Regions from separate parts of the Homo sapiens genome. Here all the other regions are linked to region 3. The links come from fine-mapping of genetic effects on plasma protein levels. A gene starts in region 3. Each other region holds a variant in brackets. All regions are shown on one strand. Distances are between the middles of the regions.

Region 1 (8,178 bases), 99 kb before region 3:
CCAGTTTGGCCAAGCTGGTCTCAAACCCCTGACCTTAAGCGACCTGCCCACCTCAGTCTCCCAAAGTGCTGGGATTACAGGCATGAGCCACCGTGCCCATCCGGAGTGATTATTCCTATCTTATCTCATGTACAGCTTGGTCTGAAGAGCTGCTTAGACTTTCCAATAAATCTATTCAAACAACTGCCTCTGTTACCTTGACTGTCTCAGATTTCGACAACCCAAGACAGGTCCTGGCACTAGGAATGTGAGACTGTCTCCGTTATTTTGACTTGCTCCAGGATAGGGAGAAGCCTATGCACGTCTCCTACTGACCATATGTTTATATTTCTAGCTTTGATGTCTGGGCACCGATTTCCCTAGGTTTAATTATTTGCTCAGTGTTAAGGCAGTGCTGTGGAAATTTGTCTGTGTAACTGGAGTGCTGTGCAGGCCTGTCTGTGTGACTGTCATGCAGGCCCATCTGTGTGATTGTTAGGGAGAAACAGCCTGCTACAATTCCACACGTTTGTGTAGCAAAGCTCACCTGGCTGAAAATCTGTTTCCCATCACCTGTGCACACTGATGAAGGCTTGGCTTCTGAAGGTTACACCTATGCCAGCGCAGTCTGGACCATGCCTCATTTTTGACTCCTGCCCTCACATCTCTGAATCTCGTTGTCCCCAAACCTGATGTTTCTTGATTCTGAATAGTGTCTTCTGATAGATCTCGGCTTTGATTACACAGTTTTTTCTTTCTGAAATGCCTTTTCCTCTTCTATTTTTGCCTCAACAACACCTATATAAGGCCTCAAGATCAAGCTCAAGGACCACTTTCTGTATATAGCCTTTCTCGACTCCCCAGTTAGAATGGTGACTCCCTGCTTCAACCTGTGGTGTTTGGGGCATACTGCTACCATAGTGCACAGTACGTTCAGGTAGGTCTGACTCCATCTGCTTTTCCTCGCTTTCCCTAAAATCTTGTCTCCACACACACACACACACACACAAAGACACACACTTTTTTTTCTTTTTGAGACGGAGCCTAGCTCTGTCGCCCAGGTTGGAGTGCAGTGGCACAATCTTGGCCCACTGCAACCTCCACCTCCCGGGTTCAAGCGATTCTTCTGCCTCAGCCTCTCGAGTAGCTGGGACTACAGGCACACACCACCACGCCCGGCTAATTTTTGTATTTTTAGTAGAGACTGGGTGTCACCATATTGGCCAGGTTGGTCTTGAACTCTTGACCTTGTGATCCACCCGCCTTGGCCTCCCAAAGTGCTGGGATTACAGGCGTGAGCCACTGTGCCTGGCCACATTTTTCTTTTCTTTTTTGAGACAGAGACTCTCTCTTTTGCCCAGGCTGGAGTACAGTGATGCAATCTCAGCTCCCTGCAACCTTCGCCTCCTGGGTTCAAGTGATTCTTCTGCCTCAGCCTCCCAAGTAGCTGGAACTACATGTGTGTGCCACCATGCCCGGCTAATTTTTTTGTATTTTTAGTAGAGATGGGGTTTCACCATATTGGTCAAGCTGCCCTTGAGCTCCTGACCTCGTGATCTGCCCACCTCGGCCTCCCAAAGTGCTGAGATTACAGGTGTGAGCCACTGTGCCTGGCCTGACACACACTTTTTTTTTTTTTTTTTTGAGATGTTGTCTCATGCTGTCGCCCAGGCTGGAGTGCAGCGGTATGATCTCTGCTCACTGCAACCTCCTCATCCCAGGTTCAAGCGATTCTCCTGCCTCAGCCTCCTGAGTAACTGGGACTACAGGCACCCGCCATCACTCCTGGCTAATTTTTGTATTTTTAGTAGAGACGGGGTTTCACCATGTTGGTCAGGTTGGTCTCAAACTCCTGACCTTGTGATCCACTGGCCTCAGCCTCCCAAAGTGCTGGAATTACAGGTGTGAACCACCACGCCCGGCCATCACACACCTACTTTTAAGAGACAGGTCTCACTGTGTTGCCCAGGCCAAGACTGTCTCAATATTTAATGAAGAAAAAAGGGATAACATGCAGGCAAGCATCTGACATCTTTGGAAAGGTGAAATTATACAATTGCAAGATACTATTTTTTGCGGGGTGGGGATGGAGTCTCACTCTGTCACCCAGACTGGAGTGCAGTGGTGCGATCTCGGCTCACTGTGACCTCCGCCTCACAGGTTCAAGCAATTCTCCTGCCTCAGTCTCCCAAGTAGCTGGGATTACAGGTGCCTACCACCATGCCTGGCTAATTTTTTGTGTTTTTAGTCGAGAGAGGGTTTCACCATGTTGGGCAGGCTGGTTTCAAACTCTTGACCTCAAATGATCTGCCCACCCAAAGTGCTAGTATTATACTTTGGGCCTCCCAAAGTGCTAGGATTACAGGTGTGAGCCACTGTGCCCAGCCTATTTTGTTTTTTATCCTAAGAAGTGTAGTGTTGAGACTAAGCAGTTCATCAGGGTGTGATGGGAGAAAAATGAACATCAATTTAGTCCTTTTGCAAACAAATAAAAAAATTAAAAATATGAATTTCAGTGGTTTGGGGCTGTTTGTCATTCCTGGTGGACCTGGAACAATTTGTTAGGACTTATATAGAACAGATGGAGCAGCTCAACTTTCTGGCAGTCATTCTGCTGTGCCATCGCCTGCAGAGCAGTCGTAAAACTGCTCTGAATGGAGATGGATGCAGATCTCTCTTGATGTTTTAGATCAGGATTTTTCCGCCATTTGGTGTTTTCTCAGAGAAGCAGCCTACATAGCACATATTACACTTTCACATTATTTATGAAGGTAATACAGCTAGTGGTTCTCAGACCAGGCACTGAGGTCAGGGTGCCTAATTTGTTTTTTGTTCATTTGTGTTGTTTTGAAATGGTCTCCTGTCACCCAGGCTGGAGTGCAGTGGCGCCATCTCTGCTCACTGCAGCCTCGACTTCCCATGCTCAGCCATTCTCCCACCTTAGCCTCATAAGTGGCTGAGATTATAGGCCTGCGCCACCATGCCCAGCTAATTTTTGTAATTTTAGTAGAGGTGGGGTTTCACCATGTTGCCCAGGCTGGTCTTGAACTCCTGAGCTCAAGTGGACCTCCTGCCTGGGCCTCCCAAACTGCTGGGATTACAGGCATGAGCCACTGTGCCCGCCCGGCCCAGCCCAGGGTGCCTAATTTGAAAATGCAAATTAGGTGACCTTAGGCAATTTGTTCACTATGTTTGTGTGTTTACACACATGTGGGCATACCTCAGCTCCTTATTTGTAAAATGGGCCCATTAATCCTAGTTATCAGTATTACATTAACAAATTTTAAAAATTGTTTTAGAAATGGGAGTTCTCACTCTGTTGCTCAGGCCATCTGGAACTCCTGGCCTCAAGTAGTCCTCCCACCTCAACCTCCCGAGTAGCTGGGACTACAGGCACAAGCTACTGCAACTGGCACATATTAAATAACATGAGATAATACGTGCTAAACAGATTTGCACCTGGCATATTTATTGGTTTCTTTGTTCCTACCTTTCTAACTACCCCTTCCCCTCCTTTCTTAAAAGAAAAATTATTTAAGAGATAGAATCTCACTGTGTCACCCAGGCTGGTCTCAAACTCCTGGGTTCAAGCAATCTACCCACCTCAGCCTCCTGAGTAGCTGAGATTGCAGACACTAGCCACTGTGCCAGGCTCTTTGTAAAAAATTATTAAATGTCTTCTCACTATAACCTCTAAGAAGGCAAGGACTATGATGTCTTCTTCACTATTGTATCCTGGTACCTAGCATGGCATACAGTAAGTGCTAAATAAGTTTGTGTAATCTGAATGATTGAATAAATGGACATCCTTGCTTCACAGTATCAACTGAAGACAAGCAGGGAATTGTGACTGCTTAAAGCCATATCAAGGGCTTTTTGAAATCAATAATTAACATCCTAATCCTTATATTCACTTGGCTATATAACCAAGCAAGTCTTTTTTTCTTTAATTCAAATGAAAATACTTGGGTGAAAGTTAGATGTGTGAAATTGCTAATGAGAAAATTATCCAGTGAAACTTTTTTTTTTTTGAGACAGTCTTGCTCTGTTGCCCAGGCTGGAGTGCAATGGCTCGATCTCAGCTCCAAGCTATTCTCCTGCCTTGGCCTCCTGAGTAGCTGGGATTACGGGCAGATGCCACCAGGCTTGGCTTATTTTTTGTATTTTTAGTAGAGACAGAGTTTCACCATGTTGCCCAGCCTGATCTTGAACTCCTAACCTCAGGTTATCCACCCACCTTGGCCTCCCAAAGTGCTGGGATTACAGGTGTGAGCCACCGCACCTGGCCAAAACTTGTTAAAGATAGTAAAACAGACTATTCAAGAGGCGCCATGGTAATAGGTATGAAGACCTGTGAGTCAGAGATTGGGCTTGACTCTGATTCCAGCAAGTACAAGGGGAGTTTACAACCAAGGAGCAGGGTGAGGGTCATGAAATTACTAAGAGGGAACATCAGAGATGAGGGGGTTTCTGATTGAACCTGCTTGATAGGATTATTATTGTAGGCAGGATAGGGTAATAAGATACCAAGAGTGGAGCATTTTCACTAACCTGACTTAGCAGCATTCTTGCTCAAAATGTATTCTACGAGGGCAGAGAGGGAAGTCCAAGATTAGCTCTAGTCAGAAAGACCGCAAGAACCTGCCTCAAGTGTGATCAAAGAAGAGAATCTATCAGAGTCATTCTTGGATTTTTATTACAGGAACATGGGCTGTAATAAACATGAACATCACTTCATTCAGAACTGAGAGTATCAAATCTAGGCTGACCAAGAAGCTGTTAAAATAAACATACTCAGAGGTCTGGCACAGTGGCTCACGCCTGTAATCCCAGCACTTTGGGAGGCCGAGGCAGGCCGAACACCTGAGGTCAGGAGTTCGAGACCAGCATGGCGACACTCAATCTCTACTAAAAAAACAAAAATTAGCTGGGCGTGGTGGTGGATGCCTGTAATCCCAGCTACTCAGGAGTTGGAGGCATGAGAATCGCTTGAACCCAGGAGGCGGAGGTGGCAGTGAGCTGAGATGGCACCACAGCACTCCAGCCTGGGCGACAGAGTGAGACTTCATCTCAAACAACAACAACAACAAAAATCAGCCAGGCGTGGTGGTGCACGTCTGTAATCCCAGCTGCTCAAGAGGCTGAAGCGGGAGAATCGCTTGAACCCTGTGAGTGGAGGTTGCAGTGAGCTAAGATTGAGCCATTGCACTCCAGCCTGGACAACAAAGTGAGACTCTGTCCCAAAATAAAAAAATAAATAAATCAATAAACCTACTCAGGTTAAAGTGACCTCGCTCTACAGAGAACAGATAGTATCTTAGGATGTTGCTGTATGAGAACAAAATGACAAGCAATATCAATATAATGAGGTGATGTAGACAGCTATTTAAGCAAGTTACACTATAATAGTGATCCTGAAATCTGTTTTCAGTGAAAACCTTAGCTCTTCCCAACATAAACCATGTTATAAAATTAGTGGTGTAGACAGAGAAGAGGAAAGGACAACTTTTTTCTTTCTTTTGCTTTTGTTTTGTTTTTGTTTTTTTAGAAACAGTGTCTGGGTCTGTTGCCCAGGCTGGAGTACAGTGGTGTGATCTCAGCTCACTGCAGCCTTGACCTCCTGGGCTCAAGCGATCCTTCTGCACTCAGGCGATCCTCCTGCACTCAAGCGATCCTCCTGCTTCAGCCTCGTGAGAAGCTGGGACTATGGGCATGTGGCATCACATCTGGCTAATTAAAAAAATTTTTTTGGTACAGAGGGAGTCTCACTTTGTTGCCCAGGCTGGTCTTGAACTCCTGGGCTCAAGCAGTTCACCCCCCTCAGGCTCCCAAAGTGTTGGGATTGCAGGTGTGAGTCACTGCACCCGGCCTGACAACTTCTTATTTATTTAGAGACAGGGTCTTGCTGTATTGCCCAGGCTCAAGTGCAGTGGCTATTTACAGGTGTGATCATAGCTCACTGCAGCCTGGCACTCCTGGGCTCAAGTGATCCTCCCACCTCAGCCTCCCAAGTGGCTGACACTACAGATATGTGCCACCACATCTGGCTAATTTTTCTTTCTTTCTTTTTTTTTGAGATGGAGTCTTGCTGTGTCACCCAGGCTGGAGTGCAGTGGCATGATCTCAGCTCACTGCAACCTCCACCTCTGGGGTTTAAGCAATTCTCCTGCCTCAGCCTCCCAAGTAGCTAGGTTTACAGGCATAGGCCACCACACCCGGCTATTATTAGTAGAGACAAGGTTTCACCATGTTGGCCAGGCTGGTCTCGAACTCCTGACCTCAGGTGATCCACCCACCTTGGCCTCCCAAAATGCTGAGATTATAGGTGTGAGCCACCACACCCAGCAATACTCTTTCTTCTCTATAGTTTTGTATCTAAAGTCTTTCAAGTAGAAGCCAGATGAAAAAGGAACTCCAGCTCTTTCAGAGCCAGAAAGAAAGACTGGAAGACTGAAGAAAGGCAAATGCAGGAGGACAAGAAGGAGGAGGGACTCCAGCCAGGTGTCTACTTACCACTTTTTGGTTCCCTTCATTAT[C/T]GGTGAGCAGCCATTCAATATCCAGAGTGTCTTTTTCTGGAAGCCCCAGTTGATGGTGGCAGGGCAAAGTGACCTTTTCCTCTGCCACTCTCTTGATCTCAGTGTGAGTCCCCAAGGTTCCAACATAGTAGGAAACTGGAAGAGGAAAATCTTTAATGAGTAATGCAGAGACTGGATGGCAATGTGTGGGGAGCAAATATGACAACAAAGAATTATGGGATGTTCCCGTGGGCAAGTGCATGTGGAGGGGTTGCAAGAGTCCTAGACCAGGTGTACTAGAAGTCCTGGTCTCACACTGGCTCCTCCGTTAACTGAATTCATCACATCTTCTTTAACCACCCCAAATTACATCCTACTAGTGCCTGTCTTTCTTACCTTACTTGGTCTTTATGAACAATGAAATTGCTCATGTTAACTTTTTTTTTTTGAGATGGAGTTTTGCTCTTGTCGCCCAGGCTGGAGTGCAATGGCATGATCTCGGCTCACTGCAACCTCTGCCTCCTGAGTTCAAGTGATTCTCCTGCCTTAGCCTCGTGAGTAGCTGGAACTACAGGCGCATGCCACCACACCCAGCTAATTTTTGTATTTTTAGTAGAGACAGGGTTTCACCATGTTGGCCAGGCTGGTCTCGAACTCCTAACTTCAGGTGATCCACCCGCCTTGGTCTCCCAAAGTGCTGGTATTATAAGCATGAGCCACTGTGCCCGGCCTGTTTGTTTGTTTGTTTGTTTTTAGAGAGATTGAGTGTCTCTCTGATGACCAGGCTGGAGTTCAGTGGTGCAATCATGGCTCATTGCACCCTCGACCTCACCAATTCAAGAGATCCTCCCACCTCAGGCTCCAGAGAAGCTAAGACTATAGGCACATGCCACCATCCTGGCTAATTTTTTTTTTTTTTTTTTTTTTTGAGATAGAGTCTCGCTCTGTCACCCAGGCTGGAGTGCAGTGGTGCGATCTCGGCTCACTGCAACCTCCGTCCCCCAGGTTCAAGCGATTCTCGTGCCTCAGCCTCCCAAGTAGCTGGGATTACAGGCACGCTGTAATTTTTGTACTTTTTAGTAGAGACGGGGTTTCACCATCTTGGCCAGGCTAGTCTTGAACTCTTGACCTCACCATCCACCCTCCTCAGCCTCCCAAAGTGCTGGGATTGCAGGCGTGAGCCACCGCGTCCGGCCGTGCTGGCTAATTTTTTGTAGAGACAGGGTCTTGCTCTGTTATTATGCCAGGTCCCAGGTTACTTCTGGGCTGAAGCGATTCTCCAACCTTGGCCTCACAAAGTGCTAGAATTGCAGGCATGAGCCACCGTGCCTGGAAACAACTGTGTTTTTGATCTTTCTGTCTTCTATTAGCAGAGGCTTCCAAGAAGATGATACTCATGGAAACTGCACTAAGTTGCCCAGAAACTCATGTTCTTAAGTTATAGAGTCATAGTCATTTGAAGCTGGAGAAAACCTTAGAGATGAACCTTCTTACTTTCTTTAAGTCTAGTAACAGTTGTTGCTGACCAGTAGCATGTATTTAGAAGGATGAAAAGACAATTACACAAATACTGTAGTATAAAGGGAAATTATTTATGATCAAAGGGCTATGCAAATTTAGAGGAGAGAAATTATAGGCAATTAATTATAGGGTTCAGGAAAAGCTGAAATCCTTCCAGGGTTTT
Region 2 (8,178 bases), 90 kb before region 3:
CCGAGATCGCACCATTGCACTCCAGCCTGGGTGACAGAGCGAGACTCCCTCTCAGAAAAAAAAAAAAAAACCAAAGATTGTTTTCAAGCTTGCATGACTGGTAGGATGGTGATCGCAGTAGCAGTGATGGGGAAGCCAGGAGTACGATGTGTTTTATTTGGGGGTGAGCTGGGGAGGGTAGGCACTGAGTTTAGATTCAAGTCCATTGTGATGCAGGCATCTGTCCAACAGGCATCCCTGTGTTCTTTCCCCAGGCGGCGCCTCCCTTTCCACTGCTGATGCTCACACAGCTCTGCAAATAGTGTCCACCCTCAGTTGTTGTGTTAGAGGAAGTCACAGCCCTGCTTTGCTTTATTTCTTTATTTTTCATTTCTCTTGTGCCTCTAAATGAAGCTCTTGGAAACACTTCTGTTCCATCCATTGTGCCTGGGCTAAACTGTCTCAGGTCCCTTAATTTCTCTGCTTTTTCCCAAAAACACTTTTTTTTTCCTCCCACTGAGACAGGAAGTCAGGGCTTGGCATCCTCCCCAAAACAGGCTTCAATACCAGGTCACGGGCTGGGTTCCAGGTTGCTCCTTAGAGCCTTCCTAGAGACAGGTTACTACCCTCCTCCCCCACCGCCTGCCCCCGACCTCTCTGTGAGTGCAGAAATACCTTGGGGAACAAGTGGGCTCTTACAAGGAGTTCCTGCCTCCCTTAGAGACACCTATTCTTGTATCCCCCCAAGTTCTATCTTCCATTCTCTGTAGTTTCCTGTCAGATGGTTTCAAAATATGAAACAGCCTTTTTCTTTTCTTTTGAGATGGAGTCTCGCTCTGTCACCCAGGCTGGAGTGCAGTGGCGCGATCTCAGCTCACTGCGACCTCTGCCTCCTGGGTTCAAGGCATTCTCCTGTCTCAGTCTCTGGAGTAGCTGGGATTATAGGCGTGTGCCACACCGGCTGATTTTTCTGTATTTTTAATAGAGACGGGGCTTCACCATGTTAGCCAGGCTGGTCTCAAACTTCTGACCTCAGGTGATCCGCCTGCCTCGGCCTCCCAAAGTGCTGGGATTACAGGCATGAGCCACCAAACCCGGCCTCCCTGTTTATTTTCTAATTCTCTAATTCCCTGTTTATTTACCAAAATTGATTAGCAGCCAATCTGTGGGAAGGAAAATGGCTTCCGGTATTCTTGCTTTCAGGGAAATGAGATGAAGAAGAATGGAGCAGGGGAGATTGTGCTTCATTCTGCAGCAAGGCTGCTTGGGCTGAGACTGCTGGGGAGGAGCCCTCAGAGGCATCTGAAACGGCCTTGGCAAGTGTTATATCAGTGGGAAAATTATAACAGTAAGCTAAACTAACCCTCCCTGGATCTTCCCTTTCCCTTAATTATTCCTGGGCTATTGGGCCAAGCTAACTTTGGAAGACATTTAGGTTACAGTTTAAATGATAACAGGCCTTGCCCAAAACTCAACCGCTTTTGCAAAGCTAATGGGAGGCCATCAGGCTGGGAAGGAGAGACTAAATCCTGGTAAGGCACAGGCATAAGCCATTGTCAGCCATTACTCCAAGGTTATAAG[A/T]TATGCAACTTCCAGGCCGGGTGCGGTGGCTCATGCCTGTAATCCCAGCACTTTGGGAGGCCAGAGTGGGTGGACTGCTTGAGTCCAGGAGTTTTGAGACCAGCCTGGGCAACATGGCCAAACCCTATCTCCACTAAAAATGCAAAAATTAGCCAGGCATGGCGGCCCAGCCTGTAGTCCCAGCTACTTGGGGGGCTGAGGTGGGAGGATCACCTGAGCTTGGAAAGTCGAGGCTGTTGTGAGCCATGATTGCACCACTGCACTCCAGCATGGGTGACAGAGTAAGACCCTGTCTCTAAAAAAAAAAAATAAGATATGCAACTTCCCTAGTTATTCCTGCAAATAACACTATTGTAGAACCTAAGATTGGCCCTTTGAGCTATCTTTCCAGGTTTTTTTTTTTTTTTTTTTTGAGATGGAGTGTCTCTCTGTCGCCAGGCTGGAGTGCAGTGGCACAATCTTGGCTCAGTGCAACCTCCGACTCCCCGGTTCAAGTGATTCTCCTGCCTCAGCCTCCTGAGTAGCTGGGACTACAGGCATGTGCCACCACACCCAGCTAATTTTTGTATTTTTAGTAGAGACAGGGTTTCACCACGTTGGCCAAGATGGTCTCAATCTCCTGACCTCGTGATCCGCCCACCTCGGCCTCCCAAAGTGATGGGATTACAGGTGACAGCCACCGTGCCCAGCCAGGTTTTTTTTTTTTTTGAGATAGTCTTGCTCTGTCACCCAGGCTGGAGTGCAGTGGCTCGATCTCCTCTCACTGCAACCTCCGCCTCCCAGGTTCCAGTGATTCTCCTGCCTCAGCCTCCCGAGTAGCTTTTTTTTTTTTTTTTTTTTTGTATTTTTAGTAGAGACAGGATTTCACCATGTTGGTCAGGCTGGTCTCGAACTCTTGGCCTCAAGTGATCCACCCGCCTCAGCCTCCCAAAGTGCTGGAATTACAGGTGTGAGCTACCACGCCCAGCCTCCTCCTGCCCAATTTTATGTGGCTTCCAGGATGTCTGGTTCTCCCATTATCCTGTAAGCTCTTTGACATCAAGTACCATTCATTGCTGCCTTCTCATAGTACTCAGCCCAGGGTCTCACACTGCAGGTGTTCAATTAATATTTGTTGAATTTATCTGAGTGTAACCCACACGCTCATTTTTACCAATGAGCAAACTAAGACCCAGGGGTAAAAGAGACAGCCCAAGGTCCTACAACTCATTTAGCGGCAGAAATAACCCATATAATAACCCATCCTCCCAGAATTACTATAAAGCAGCTTTAGAATAGCTGGGAAATTCACTGGTTTGCACTGTACTAAGCTAAGCTTTGTTAAGAAGGAGCTTTGTAAGAAGGAGCTCTGGCTTAACCCTGATCACTTTCCACCGGACACAAAAATGCTCAAATGAAACCAGTGCCCTACATTCCAGGCAGAGCTAGAGAACCCAGCACCAATTTAGTGCATACAATAGATACTTAAACATTCAATAACAAATGCCAAGAGCCAGCTATGAAAGTTGCCAATTTAAGCCACTAGAGGGAATCAAAGGCTCAGATTCGTCTGATGTCCCCAAAAAACTGGAACATTGTGGCGGGTGGTGTGCTTTGACAGTCAGCCAAGTCCTATTTATACCATATCCAGAATTAAATACAGCAGTGCAGGGAGGAGCCCCTCTGTGAATACAAATGGCTTCATCAAGGCAGGGAGCCATGAGATCAGGGCGCATACACTTCTAGTCTTCCTTGAACTTCAGTTCGTTAGACTCCAGGAGGCCACTGAGATTTCTACAGATTTCTAAGGTCCTTCTCCTTCTGTCCCTTTTTTTTTCTTTCTTTCTTTCTTTTTTTTTACATTAAAGCTTTTACATTTTTTTACATTGCTCAAAGGGTCTTCTGTACTTTTTTTTCTTTTCTTTTTTAAACCCACCTAAGCAGAGAGGGGCCTGGGTTCTGTCTCTTTTTTTTTTTTTTTGAGACAGAGTGTCACTCTGTTGCCCAGGCTAGAGTGCAGTCGCGCAATCTCGGCTCACTGCAACCTCTGCCTCCCAGGTTAAAGTGATTGTTGTGCCTCAGCCTCCTGAGTAGCGGGGATTACAGGCATGCACCACCATGCCTGGCTAATTTTTGTATTTTTAGTAGAGACGGGATTTCACTGCGTTGGCCAAGCTGGTTTCAAACTCCTGACCTCAGGTGATCAGCCCGCCTCGGCCTCCCAAAGTGCTGGGATTACAGGCCTGAGCCACCATGCCTGGCTTTTTTTTTTTTTTTTTTTTTTTTTAATCCAGATTCTCCCTCTGTAGCCCAGGCTGGAGTGCAGTGCTGTGATCTCGGGTTCATGAGTAACTGGGATTACAGGGTTGCACCACCCACCGAGCTATTTTTTTTAGTAGAGATGGGGTTTCTCCATGTTGACCAGGCTGGTCTCAAACTCCTGGCCTCAAGTGATCTGCCCGCCTCAGCCTCCCAAAGTCTAGGATTACAGGCATGAGCCACCGCGCCCGGTCCTGGGTTCTATTTTTTTTTTCCCCAGACGGAGTCTCGCCCTGTTGCTCAGGCTGGAATGCAATGGCGTCATCTCAGCTCGCTGTAACCTCCGCCTCCCAGGTTCAAACGATTCTCCTGCCTCAGCCTTTCAAGTAGCTGGGATTACAGGCAGGCGCCACCATGCTCAGCTAATTTTTTGTATCTTTAGTAGAGACGGGGTTTCACCATGTTGGCCAGGCTCGTCTCGAATTCCTGACCCCTTATGATCCACCCGCCTCAGCCTCCCAAAGTGCTGGGATTACAGGTGTGAGCCACCGCGTCCGGCCTCTGTCTTTAACTCCAAGGCTTAGCAGTGCTCATGGGGGCTGCTGAGCTTGTCTGCCATCTGATGGGTGAGAGGAAAGGGGCAGTCTGACCATCCTGTGGCTAGCCTTGGATTGCGTGGGCACTGGAAGATTCATCTTTGTTAGGAAAGACTTTAGAGATCATCAGTTTAACTTATGAGGAGATTGCACCCCAGAGAATTGAGATGTCACGTCACAAAACTAATTAGTGGCAGAATTGCAAGTAAGGGAATAGTCTCTGCTAGGATTCTGTTGCAGCATTTACCTATGGGAAGAGGTGCTGAGTGGTGGCAGTGGTAAGGACTGCCTCCTTAGGCACAGGCAGAATGCCTTCAGGGAAGCCGCAAGCTCTCCCTAAGTGGGAGCTTTTGCATGCACCTCAGGCACTTATCAAAGGACCTCTGGGAGCTTGAGAAAATTACCTTCTGAGCCTTAGTGTTTCCATCCGCAAAATGGGAATTAAAGAAGACACTGAGGAAAGCAGCTAGCATTGTGAAAGCACATAGGAGTCTCCCATTAAAATGTTAGTTCTCTTCCCCTGCTCATCTCTGCTAGAAGGGACTTTTTCTCACATGACTGCTGCCTACACTCAATTAAGAGTAGTTTAAAGTTTTATCCTCTAAAAGGTATTTACATTTATTTCCTTCCCTTCCCTCCCTCCCTCCCTCCCTCCCTCCCTCCCTTCCTTCCTTCCTTCCTTCCTCTCTCTCTCTTTCTTTCTTCTTTTCTTTCTTTCTTTTTTTTTGAGATGGAGTCTTGCTCTGTCGCCCAGGCTGGAGTGCAGTGGCACAATCTTGGCTCACCACAACCTCCGCCTCCTGGGTTCAAGCGATTCTCCTGCCTCAGCCACGTGAATAGCTGGGATTACAGGCATGCGCCACCACACCTGGTTAATTTTGTATTTTTAGTAGAGACAGGGTTTTGCCACGTTTGTCAGGTTTGTCTCAAACTCCTGACCTCAGGTGATCTGCCTATCTTGGACTCCCAAAGTGCTGGGATTATAGGTGTGAGCCACTGTGCCAAGCCGTATTTACATTTTCTCATAGATTCTCCTGAACCTTAAGACCCCCTTCAAAGAGATGGGCAGGAGGAACTGTGGTTTTTGTTTGTTTGTTTTTTGTTTTTTTTTTTTTGAGACAATCTTGCTCTGTCACCCAGGCTGGAGTACAGTAGCGCAATCTCAGCTCACTGCAACCTCCGCCTCCCGGGTTCCAGCGATTCTTGTGCCTCAGCCTCCCGAGTAGCTGGGATTACAGGCCCACGCCACCACGCCTGGCTAATTTTTGTATTTTTAGTAGAGACGGGGTTTCACCATGTTGGCCAGGCTGGTCTCGAACTCCTGACCTCAGTGATCCACCCACCTCAGACTTCTGAAGTGCTGGAATTACAGCTGTGAGCCACCATGCCCTGCTATTATGAGATTTTATTGTGATTTTATTCTATTTTTTTTTTTAGCTCATCAGCTGTTGTTAGTGTATTTTATGTGTGGCCCAAGATAATTCTTCTTCTTCCAGTGTGGCTCAGGGAAGCAAAAAGATTGGACACTCTTGAACAGTTTATTAAATTTGTATGCCTTTTCTCCTATTAATCTGCCTCTTGTCAGTGCTTTTCAATGAACCTTCAGCGGGCAGACGGGAAGTTTTCCCTTCACCCCAGCTACATATATAATTCTGTAGGAGGTGTGTGTGTGTGTGTGTGTGTGTGTGTGTGTGTGTGTGTGTGCGCGCGCGCGCGCGCACGTGCCTGCCTTCCAGATTGTTTATGGAACACTGTATGCAGTTCAAGACACAGCATGATGCAATAGAAAGAGGATGAGCTTTGGAGTCTGAGAGGTCTGGACTTGAGTAGTGGCTGTAAGACCAATTAATTCCCTGATTGCTCCAAGTTGTTTACTTTTCCGTAAAAGGAAAATAAAAACATCAACTTTGGAAGTTATTGTAAGCATTACATATGATGCATGAAAGTGTCTAGCACTGGCGCATGGTATGTAGCACACACTCAGCAAATGGCAACTACTATTAATAATTGTACTTGTGGCTGGGTGCAGTGGCTCACGCCTGTAATCCCAGCACGTTGGGAGGTCGAGGTGGGCGGATCACGAGGTCAGGAGATCGAGACCATCCTGGCTAACACAGTGAAACCCCGTCTCTACTAAAAATACAAAAAATTAGCCCGGCGAGGTGGTGGGCGCCTGTAGTCCCAGCTACTCGGGAGGCTGAGGCAGGAGAATGGTGTGAACCCGGGAGGCGGAGCTTGCAGTGAGCCGGATTGAGCCACTGCACTCCAGCCTGGGCGACAGAGCGAGACTCCGTCTCAAAAAAAAAAAAAAATAATAATAATAATAATTGTACTTGCTGCATTTTTTTTTTTTGAGACAGGGTCTCAGATGCTCTTTCTGCCAGGCTGGAGTGCAGTGGCACAATCATAACTCACTGCAGCCTGAACTCCCTGGGCTCAAGTGATCCTCCCACCTCAGCCTCCCAAGTAGCTGGGACTATAGGCTTTCACCACCATGCCTGGCTAATGAAATTTTTTTTTTTTAATTTAGACGGAGTCTCACTCTGTCACCCAGGCTGGAGTGCAGTGGCGTGATCTCAGCTCACCGAAACCTCGGCCTCCTGGGTTCAAGCGATTCTCCTGCCTCAGCCTTGTGAATAGCTGGGATTATAGGCGCATGCCACCACATCTGGCAAATTTTCGTATTTTTAGTAGAGATGGGCTTTCACCGTGTTGGCCAGGCTGGTCTCAAAGTCCTGACCTCAGGTGATCCTCCCACTTCAGCCTCCCAAAGTGCTGGGATTACAGGTGCGAGCCACCGCACCTGACCTAAATTTTTTTTTTTTTTTTTTTCAGAAACAGGGTTTCACTATGTTGCCCAGGCTGGCCTCAGGCTCCTGAGCTCAAGCAGTCCTCCCGCCTCGGCCTCTGAAAGTGCTGGGATCACAGGCATGGGCCACCACCGTGTTGCATTTTGAAAGACAGGGAAAACCAGAAAACATACCACATGGACAAACCAGGATTGTGAAAAGTTTGGAAGTCATTTTGCTTCATCACTGTTAGCATTTGGCTATATTTGCTCGCTTTTGTGTGCTCTCTCCTATTTTTTTTTTGTTGTACCAGTTGAAATCAAGTTGTGGATGGCATGACACTAAGTCTAAATGTTGCAGTGCACATCTCCTAAAAATAAGCATGTTATTCCTCACAACAACAGCCATCTTAGCACACCTAAGAAAATTGATAATATTGTAGAGAAGGTCATTCCTGACGAGCAATTAAGGAAGACTGCAGTGAGTAAGGATGGAGGTAGTTCTGGAGAGACAGGCATGTTTTTACCACACAGAGGGAGGGAAAAGAATTCTAGACGGAGGGAGCACCTGGAAGCTAATGGCACCACCTGTCCTCTCCGATCAGCTCCCCCTAGCCTCCCTTGTCACGAACTAGTGAAGTTCCTCTGCCATTTGCTTTCCCAATCCCACACCCAGCCCAACCCCAGAACCTCTCCAGTCCACTCCTTTTATGAGAGTCTTCAGAAGAAGAAGACCATATTTACTATGAGCTGCTAAATCCCTGACATTTTACTGTCTTTTTAAATACAAACATATATTTGGTACTTAAACAGTTTAAAGCCTAAAGCCAAAGGAATGAAGCTTGCAAGTTATCAGTGGAATTTCAGACATCTGGGAGTCAATACAGTGCCTAGTTATCTCCTCCCACCCCTCCAAGGAGGATATTTGTTCCTAGAGTCCTTAATATTAGGGGTGTGGATACAAGGACCCAGGTGACAGCCTGAGCTTTGGGCTTC
Region 3 (8,178 bases):
TTCTTGGTTTATCATCATGTGCTACCAATTGCCATGAGTGAACAGTGCCTGAAAAAATCAATAAGCAGGGTAACACCCATCTGTTCCTGATGACAACCACATCTGGACCAGCCAGAAAATTCTCAGAATTAAAAAAAATTCAGAGAATGTTACTGGTATAAGGAAACTTAGAGATAACCTTAATCTCATATTTTCATTTTACAAAGGAGAAAACTAAGGCTCAGAGTGGTATGATTTTCCTAGGCTCACCCAGAAGAAATGATTAAGGAGCTAAAGCTATTGATTTCCAGTCCTGTTCCTTGTACACATACACCCACATCTTTGGGACTTTGAGTATTAATTCCTTTCTCCTGAATACACCAGACATACATGACACTGCAGAGTTCCTAGGACTTCCAGTTACGTTGGCAAAATTGAAATGTTATGACGCCTGCCTGATTTTTCAGGCAATTTCTCATATAATAAAAACCAATGCCAATTATTCAGCATTTAGCTCACTTAACTGAAGCATCACAAGAGCAGCTGTGATCTTGAAGCTTAAGTACATGAGCTGAAAAGGAAGGAGAGACATTTTTCTATTTCAAAAATGTGTAATAGGATCATGGAATTCGGGTTCCAGTCTTGGCCCTTCTACTGAGCTAGCTGTATAACCTTAGCCAAACCTCTCTGAACTTTGGTTTCTTCTTCATCTTAAAAGAAGGCATAGATTTAGATGAAAGATTAACTTGGGTTCCAAGGAAAAGTATCAGGAGGTCTCAATGAGGTCTTAAATATTATTGGCAAATTTGATGTATACATGTCTTTTTCTAAGAAGTTGGTTTTGTGATTTTCATCAGATTCTACAAAGGGTCTGGGACTCAAAATTTTAAGAACGATTGATTTAAACAGTCTCTTAGTTTTCCTCCAGTTCTGGCAATCTTTGACTCTACCTTTAAAAAATATCCATCATCACTAGATGCATTCATGAAATAATACTCATGTGTACCCTGCCCAGATAAGCACAAGACAAAAATAGGATATGACTAGATATAAGCCTACAGGGAATATATCGTTATTATGACCATCACCATTAAAGTGGGAAGATAAGGGTAGGACATGGAATCCTACTGAGACCTGTCGTTATCTTACAGACCAATGGACTATGCATTCATGCCTTCTTCAAACTCACTTTCTGCGAAACCAGGCTCCTTCCCCGTGCTGGCAGAAGTTTCAACAGGTAAGTCTATTTTTAATCTGGTACTAGCACACACGATATACAAAATAAATTTGTATGACAAATATATTATCTGGTCCCTATCCCTGTAATGTTCTTTGTGAATTTTTTAAAAATAGGACTGGTCCTATTTGCATTAATAGACAAGGAAGCTCAAAGCAAGCTGAATTAAAACTGGGCTCCTCACTATTGGGTTATCCCGCAGTCAAAGGTTAGTGATCTTCCAAATTTTTCACCTCTCTTGACCTTAAAGATTTCAAATACTTCAAAAATCCAATTATCTCTTAACAAATAGTTCACAAGTGTTTATGCAAGGTACTGAACATGGTTCACAGGTGAATGAGACACTGTCCCTGCCTTCATGGAGCTTCCATTCTAATGGGGTGTTAGATAAGCATTTGGAACACCATAATACAAAGTAGCATAAGAGGAAGGCTATTGGGATTCAAAGGTCAAATAGACTACTCAAAAGAAAAAAAGTATATTCAGCTGGTGAAACCATGGACAGGTGTATGGAGGAAGTGGCATTTGAGGTGAGACTTGGGGAATGAACATGATTTTGATCTGCAGTGGCAGGAAATAAGGAGGCAGTTTTGGTGGGGGGATTATCATAAACAAAAGCATAGAATTAGAAAGAAGCATGGGACATGTTTTGGGCGCATGAAGTAATTCAGGTTCCCTACCGAGTATCTGGGGGTGAGTAGAGGAAGAGCTGTGAATGACATTATGTAAAGTCTTTGATGTCAGAATGAAGTGTTTATACTCAACACTAAAAGCAATGAGACTACTAAAGGTTTTTGGAAGAAGGGAGAAAAACCATAGAATTATAGAAATTTTGAATTGAACATTCCCCTACCCCTATGCCCATTGTACAGACAAGGGAGTCAGAATAAGAACCAGAGAGGTTGCCAGACTCTTAAGTTCCAGCTTCGTGCATTCTACCAGCGGCCTCACAGGGTTACTCGGGTAGCAGTGTGCAGGATGGAGGAGAGAGGACAGGCAGGACAGGAACGTGGCAGCTACTATAGTCATCCAGGAGAGAAGTTAAGGTGGCACAATGAGGGCCGGAACGTTACGGGAGTGAGGCAGGATAGTGGGTCAGAAGAGGGGCTGAGCTGGAGCTCCTTCTCTCTTCTCCATGGGGCTCAGAGCACTTCTTATTCATTCACATCAGAGAGGTGGGTTATTTGACCTCACTCATTGGCAGGTCCAGGAAACATGGAGTCAACTGTCCCACAGTTCAGACGATGAACACTCTCCACCCTCCCAGCCCCTGTTTGATACTGTGCAATCTTTAGAAAAAGAGAAGCCAAAAACCATGCCAGCCAGGATCAGAAGCAGCCCTGGAACTGCCCCTTTAAAGGACCAGTATGATGATTTCAGGATTCAGACAACTTGCTGTGTTTTCTTTCTGCCTTTGCTGAACAGTGTCCGAGCATTCCATGGCTCCAAACCATTTCTTAAATAAGGACAGGTGCTCAAAAAGTGCAAATTTTTTTTCCCTTTCCCAGACCTCTCTCCTATAGGTCACGCTGACATCTTACATTCCATGAAGAGGATGGTGAGATCGAAGAGCCAGCCAGGTGTGGCAGAGGGTAAGCGCTTTGAGAATCTCTGCAGCCACAGGAGGCTGTAAAGCAATGCGCTTTAGCAAGCTTTCTCTGGAAGCAGGCAGCCTGCGCTCAAATTCCGTCTCCCCTAATTATGAGTGTGTGGCCTTGAGCAAGTTACCTGGCCTTTTTACAGCTTGGTTTCTTCATCTGTAAAATGAGGGTAGCCAACAAGGATGGCTGGGCAGCCAATAGGCTTGTTGTGAAGAACAAACGAATTACCAAGATAGTACATATAAAGTGTTCATATAACAAGGACTATTAGCTGTTTTTAATAAGAGAGCCCTGAAGTTTCATTCTACTAAATATCTGGTGATTGGTAACCTAGTGGTAGAGTCCAGTAAAGGGAATCAAGGTGCCATCCAGCTGCGCCAGATGTGCACAGGAACAGTATTGCAGTATTTGGTTAAGTCTAAAAGAGTTTAGAAAATAACCCCTCCCCACCTGCCTTACTTGAGCAATAGTTTGGCTTAGCCCACCTCTTTCATTTCTCTAACTTAAGTGATTATCAGCCTGAGGCTGGCCAAGATGGGTATGCATACAGTATAATTGGTTTGTAAAGTTTCAAAAAAGACAGAGAACTCTAACCACGTATTTCAGGATTTGGTGGTTCTTCTAGACACCAGCCTCCTTCAAACCTCTGGTGTTGTAGGCTAGAAGGGACTTAGGAACCATCTAGTATTCTCTTTCCAGAGCTAAAGACGTGGAAGCCCTGGATAAGGAGTAAGTTGTCTGAGGCCACCCAGCTAGTCAGTTCAAAACCAGGACCAGCTCTCCCGTGGCCTGGTGTTCAGGGTAGTGCTCACTCTTGACCACTGGCTGGCTCTTTGATTTTCTGATCTCCAGCTAACTGTGGGGCCTGTCTGCAGTGGATCCCATGCTTCAGGGTGCATAGTGACGTGCCCTTGGCTCTCCCTGACTGCCTTTCCTGCCCTGGCTCCTCAGACATTTCCAGTCACTCCGGTGGGCTCCTACCACCCACATCCCTGATGTCCTCTCCTGCAAACCTGCCTCTGCCTCAGGGCCTCTGAGGCCCCAAGAGTCCTGCCTGGGGGACCCCAGGAAGGGACGCTCAGGAGGACTCTTCCCTTTGCTCTGGAGCCTGTTTCAGGAAAAAGTGGTGCTTGCTCTATTTCCCTCTGTTCTGGTTCCTCTGCTGCGTTTTTTCCAAGTCTTCTTCACTCTCTGTGCTCGGACTCCCCCAGCCTTGCTCTTCTGTTTTACATTCCTGTTCTCCTCTTTTTCTCTCTCCTTCCCAACCCTTCCCCTTTCCCCTTTTCCTTCCTTCCCTGTGTGACTTGGGGCATTTGCATCTTCCTGGTGCTCCTTGGGCCCTGCCCTTTTTCCCTCTCCCCTTTCCTCTCCAACCCTGCCTATCCCCCACTCTGCTCACCCTTTAACACATCTGTTTCTAATCTGAGCCTCGGAGGCGCCTGTTTGAAACAACAACAAAAAACCCCCACCCTCAGGAACCTGGCACAAAAATTCCTGGATAAACCTTCCCTCCACCAATTCTCCACTTTTCCCAGATACACCAGAAACTAAACACCGCCCTAAAGAGGACCCTGCACATCAAACGGTTCCCCAAGCCTGTTCAAGGGCCCAGATGTGCGAGACAATCTCGATGGCCGACTGGGCGGCCCTCGGTTGCCAGATGTGCTCCTCCGTGGCCAGGAGGCAGGGACTGAAAAGCCGGCTGACTCCAGGGGCTGCAGGGACACCCGGTCAGAACCGGCGTCTTTCCCGGACGCAGGGCTGCGTTTGCCCACGGCCATCCAAACTCCCGCCCTCCCAGAGGCACTCACCTAGCAAGAGGAGAAGGAGGAGGGACATCCCGATCCCCGGACGCGGGCGCTTCCCCGCTCAGCTGCTGCTTGGCTCCGGGGCGGCCGGGCGCCTCCGACGGACCTCGGGCGAGCTGGGCGCGGCGCCTCGGGGTGCGCGCGAGGTGGCTGCAGCCATGTGCCGGGCGGGAGCCGGCCCCGCGCCCCGTGCCCCTGGGGGCAGATGGGCTCCCGGCGCTCGCCCCACCAGCTGGCGCCCGGACGGGAGCCGGGACCAGGGTCAGGGAGGAAAACGCGAGGCGAAAAGGCGCTACCGCTTCGTGGAACACTTTTCCCTGTTTGGAAAGAAAAAGGAGTGAAGAAAGAGAGAGGGAAAAAAAAAATTCAGCTGGAACCACATGGTTGCCTCCTACCGCAGCCCCTCCCTCTCTCTCTCGCTGTTCCCTCCTTCCCTCCCTCCCTCCCGCGCGGCGTTTGGGGTTTGCGGTGGGGGCCGGTCGGGGAGAAGCGTGAGCTGGCCGGGCAGGGAGGGCCGGGGGAGACCTGGGGCCGTGCAGAGGCGGGTGGGTTGAGAGGCGCCGGGCGTAGGATTGATTCTTTGCAGGAGGCATTGGTGACACCTCGGCTGAGAGCCCATGGACGAGGCCTTGTCCGTTCCTAGAGCTCTGCTCTCACTTGGTCCTTCTCTCCACTTCTCTCTCGCTTCTTTTTTACTCTCGTTTCTCTCTGCTTCCACGTCTCTCACAAATCTGGCGTTTCTCTCTTCCATCTCTTCCTCTCTAGGTCTCCTTGTTCGCATTCTTGCCTCTCCCTCCTCGTCTCCTCATGCCCTCTCCCCTCTGTCCTCTGCGCTCTTCTCGCCTCTCCTCTCCCTCCCCGTCTGGTTCTGTTAGTGTAAAGCCACCAGACTGACCAGGCCGACGGCGGGGCGCGGAAGTGGGTGCGAAGGCAGCCAGCGGCCGGCCGACCAGGGCTCTCCCCACCGACTGCCTGCTTTGGCACCCGGCTACCCCCCTTGGCCTGGCTTTCCTGGGGCCTTTCGCGTTCGCTCGCTTTCTACTGTCGGTATTTGCAGCAGCGCTCCCTCAGGTCCCGAGCAGAGCTAAGCCAGCCAGCACCCAGGGGAAGGGGACCCACAGCCCCGTGGAAAGAGGTCTATCGAGATGCTTTGCAGCAAAGTGCTCTGCACGTGGCCCTGGCCAAAATGTGCACCACCCCCTTTCAGAAAGAACATAAGGCAGAGGGAGCAGAATCCCCCTGGTGCCAGGGCCTGCGCGCCCGGGCTCCGGGAACCCGGCCCAGGAGGCTCGCGGAGGGCAGGAGGCTGGCGGCCGGACGGGGGCGGACGGTGGGTTCCGCGGAGCCGAGCAGCCCCGCCCCAGGGTCGGCCCCTGGGAGTCTGCCCTTCACTACCCTGCTGCTCAGCGGCAGCGGGAGGCAGCGAGACTAAGAAAGGGCAGTGAGGGTGGCGCTCAGACCTCAGCTGCCTGGACCTCCTGCCCTGACCTTGTGCCCAGGGCCTCTCAGAAACTCTGGTCCCAGTCTCTGAATGTCCCTGGAGGGCTTCTCCCTCAGCTGCCCAGAGGCATGATGACGCAATCGCTCACCTTCGGCCTCGCCAGAGCCCAGGTTGGAAGCCGGGGCCAGCGCTCTTGAGAAGAAAGATGAACCCCGCCGGGGCCGGTGGGCTGCCGAGTCACACATTTGCAATGAAATGCAAATGTGTAATGAAAACCCGTCCCATTTCGCAGACTAGGAAAGCAAAGGCCTGGAGAGGTTATGGAAGTTTCACAAGGTCACTCAGAGGACTTGCAAAAGCTGGGGCTGTTCCTAGGGCTCGCGGATCAGCTGGAGCATTGCTTTAGAATTGCAGCATTTCTCCACTCACTCCCTCACCCCTTCGATACCGATGTGTTAGCATCCACACTATGCCAGGTGCTTTTTTAGGTGTGAGGACACAAAGTGAGTAGAACTTGGAAGTTGACATTTAAAAAAACCTGGGAGGAGTATGTCATGAACACCAAGTATGGACCCAGAATCATATTATATTATTACGTGGTTTTTATTGGGTCATATTATTGACCTTTTTATATCATTCTTATTATACTGCTAAGGGATAGTCACTGAAAAAAAAATCACCATCCCTTAGCATGAATAGGAAGACAAGGAAACTATAACTTAGAGAGGCCTAAATATCTTGCCCCAGATCACAATAGAATTAAAATGCTTCTATTCCAATATTAATATTCTAATATTTAAAAATATTATTTTTTATATTGAGAAGTGTTTAAAAGGTCTCTTTGACTCCGAAGTAACTTTATTTTCCATTTCATACTAATTGTCTAATAGGGGAAATAGATACATTCACAACTATAATTTGTAAATGAATATGTTGAAAAAACCGTCTTTTTTCTTTTCTTTTTTTTTTTTTGAGACAGAGCCTCACTCTGTCACCCAGGTTCACTGCAACCTCTGCCTCCTGGGTGCAAGTGATCCTCCCACCTCATCCTTCCAAGTAGCTGAGACTACAGGCTCACACCATCATGCCCGGCTAATATTTGTATTTTTGGTAGAGATTGGGTTTCGCTGTATTGCCCAGGCTGGTCTCAAACTCCTGGGCTCAAGCAGTTCACCTGACTCGAACTCCCAAAATGCTGGGATTACGGGCATGAGCCACCATCCCCAGCCAAAAACAGTAATTCTTAAAGGCTGGAGAAGGTGGCAGAAAAACTACATACAGAAGGTAACTCTTTTGTTGTTTCTGCTTTATAATTAAAAAAAAAATTGACATTTTGGGCTTACAAAAAAGTTGAAAATAGTACAAAAATTCTTCACCCAGATTCCCCCTTTTTATTTCTCTCTAGAGGTGGGGTTTTTGCACAAGTTTTAAAGCCTCACCTCCACCCCACCGCTGCTGGTGGCCTTTCTCAAGAACTTAGTAATGCCAGTGCTGTTTATTGCTTGAGGGCTGGTGTGCGCATGAAGACAGATGTGTGTGGGTGTAGGCAGATATGTGTTTAAACCCAGTTGCTCAAGCCGAAGGTAACAGGCGCCTTTGGCTCTAGGTCATTAGTCACCAGCACAGGAAATGATTAGACTGAGATTGGGTCACAAGCACTCAATTTTCCCAGCCCCAAGTCTTGTAGCCAATATGGCACATATTTTTTGGAAGAGGATCTTTGGGTCCCTGAAGGTGTCTGTCTCTAAATCTGAAACCTCTTTTCTATTGGCATGGGTCTCTGGGCAGGAAGAGCAGAGAGAGAGTGCTTCTGCGATGGTTTGTAACTCACATCCCATCCCTACCAGTGCTGGGCCCCACTCTGGGCTGGGTGCCTCGGAGGATCCCAAGATTACGAGATAGTCCTTACCCTGAATGGACGGACCTCTCAGTTCAGAGGGAGAAAAAACACCAACATGGGAAATGTTTCAACAACAATACAAGAAAGTTAGATAGTTAAATGCCACAGTAAATTATCCTGACAATAAAAAACAGTGGGAATTCCAAGAAAGGAAAGAGCACCTTAGGCTGGGGTAATTGCGGAGGAGAGCAATGATGGAACCAGCCCTTGGG

Alleles and levels. Alleles are on the strand shown, and positions count from the first base shown. The strength of an association depends on the size of the effect and on how common the allele is.
As copies of C replace T in region 1, the plasma level of the protein whose gene starts at base 4,964 in region 3 goes up (moderate association).
For the plasma level of the protein whose gene starts at base 4,964 in region 3, T is the high allele of the variant in region 2 and A is the other (weak association).

The links. PIP is the chance, under the fine-mapping model, that this variant and not a neighbour inherited with it causes the effect. Protein levels are from antibody-based Olink assays in UK Biobank. Linkage for the fine-mapping came from a reference panel and not from the study's own genotypes, which makes the PIPs less certain.
Region 1: its variant is fine-mapped to the plasma level of the CLMP protein (UK Biobank, PIP above 0.99). The variant lies in the coding sequence of CLMP. If it changes the protein, the assay may bind it differently, which can mimic a change of level.
Region 2: its variant is fine-mapped to the plasma level of the CLMP protein (UK Biobank, PIP above 0.99).

The regions. Positions count from the first base shown.
Region 1 is chr11:123,091,303-123,099,480 of GRCh38, forward strand. It overlaps CLMP (CXADR like cell adhesion molecule), which reads right to left. Exons shown (of 7, transcript NM_024769.5): 2 at 6,493-6,650. Among named protein-coding and RNA genes, the nearest start is that of HSPA8, 33 kb to the left of the region's middle. The variant C/T (reference allele first, on the strand shown) is at 6,516.
Region 2 is chr11:123,100,328-123,108,505 of GRCh38, forward strand. The region is part of intron 1 of CLMP (CXADR like cell adhesion molecule); the gene reads right to left. Among named protein-coding and RNA genes, the nearest start is that of HSPA8, 42 kb to the left of the region's middle. The variant A/T (reference allele first, on the strand shown) is at 1,561.
Region 3 is chr11:123,190,285-123,198,462 of GRCh38, forward strand. It overlaps CLMP (CXADR like cell adhesion molecule), which reads right to left and starts at 4,964. Exons shown (of 7, transcript NM_024769.5): 1 at 4,629-4,964. The coding sequence starts at 4,656.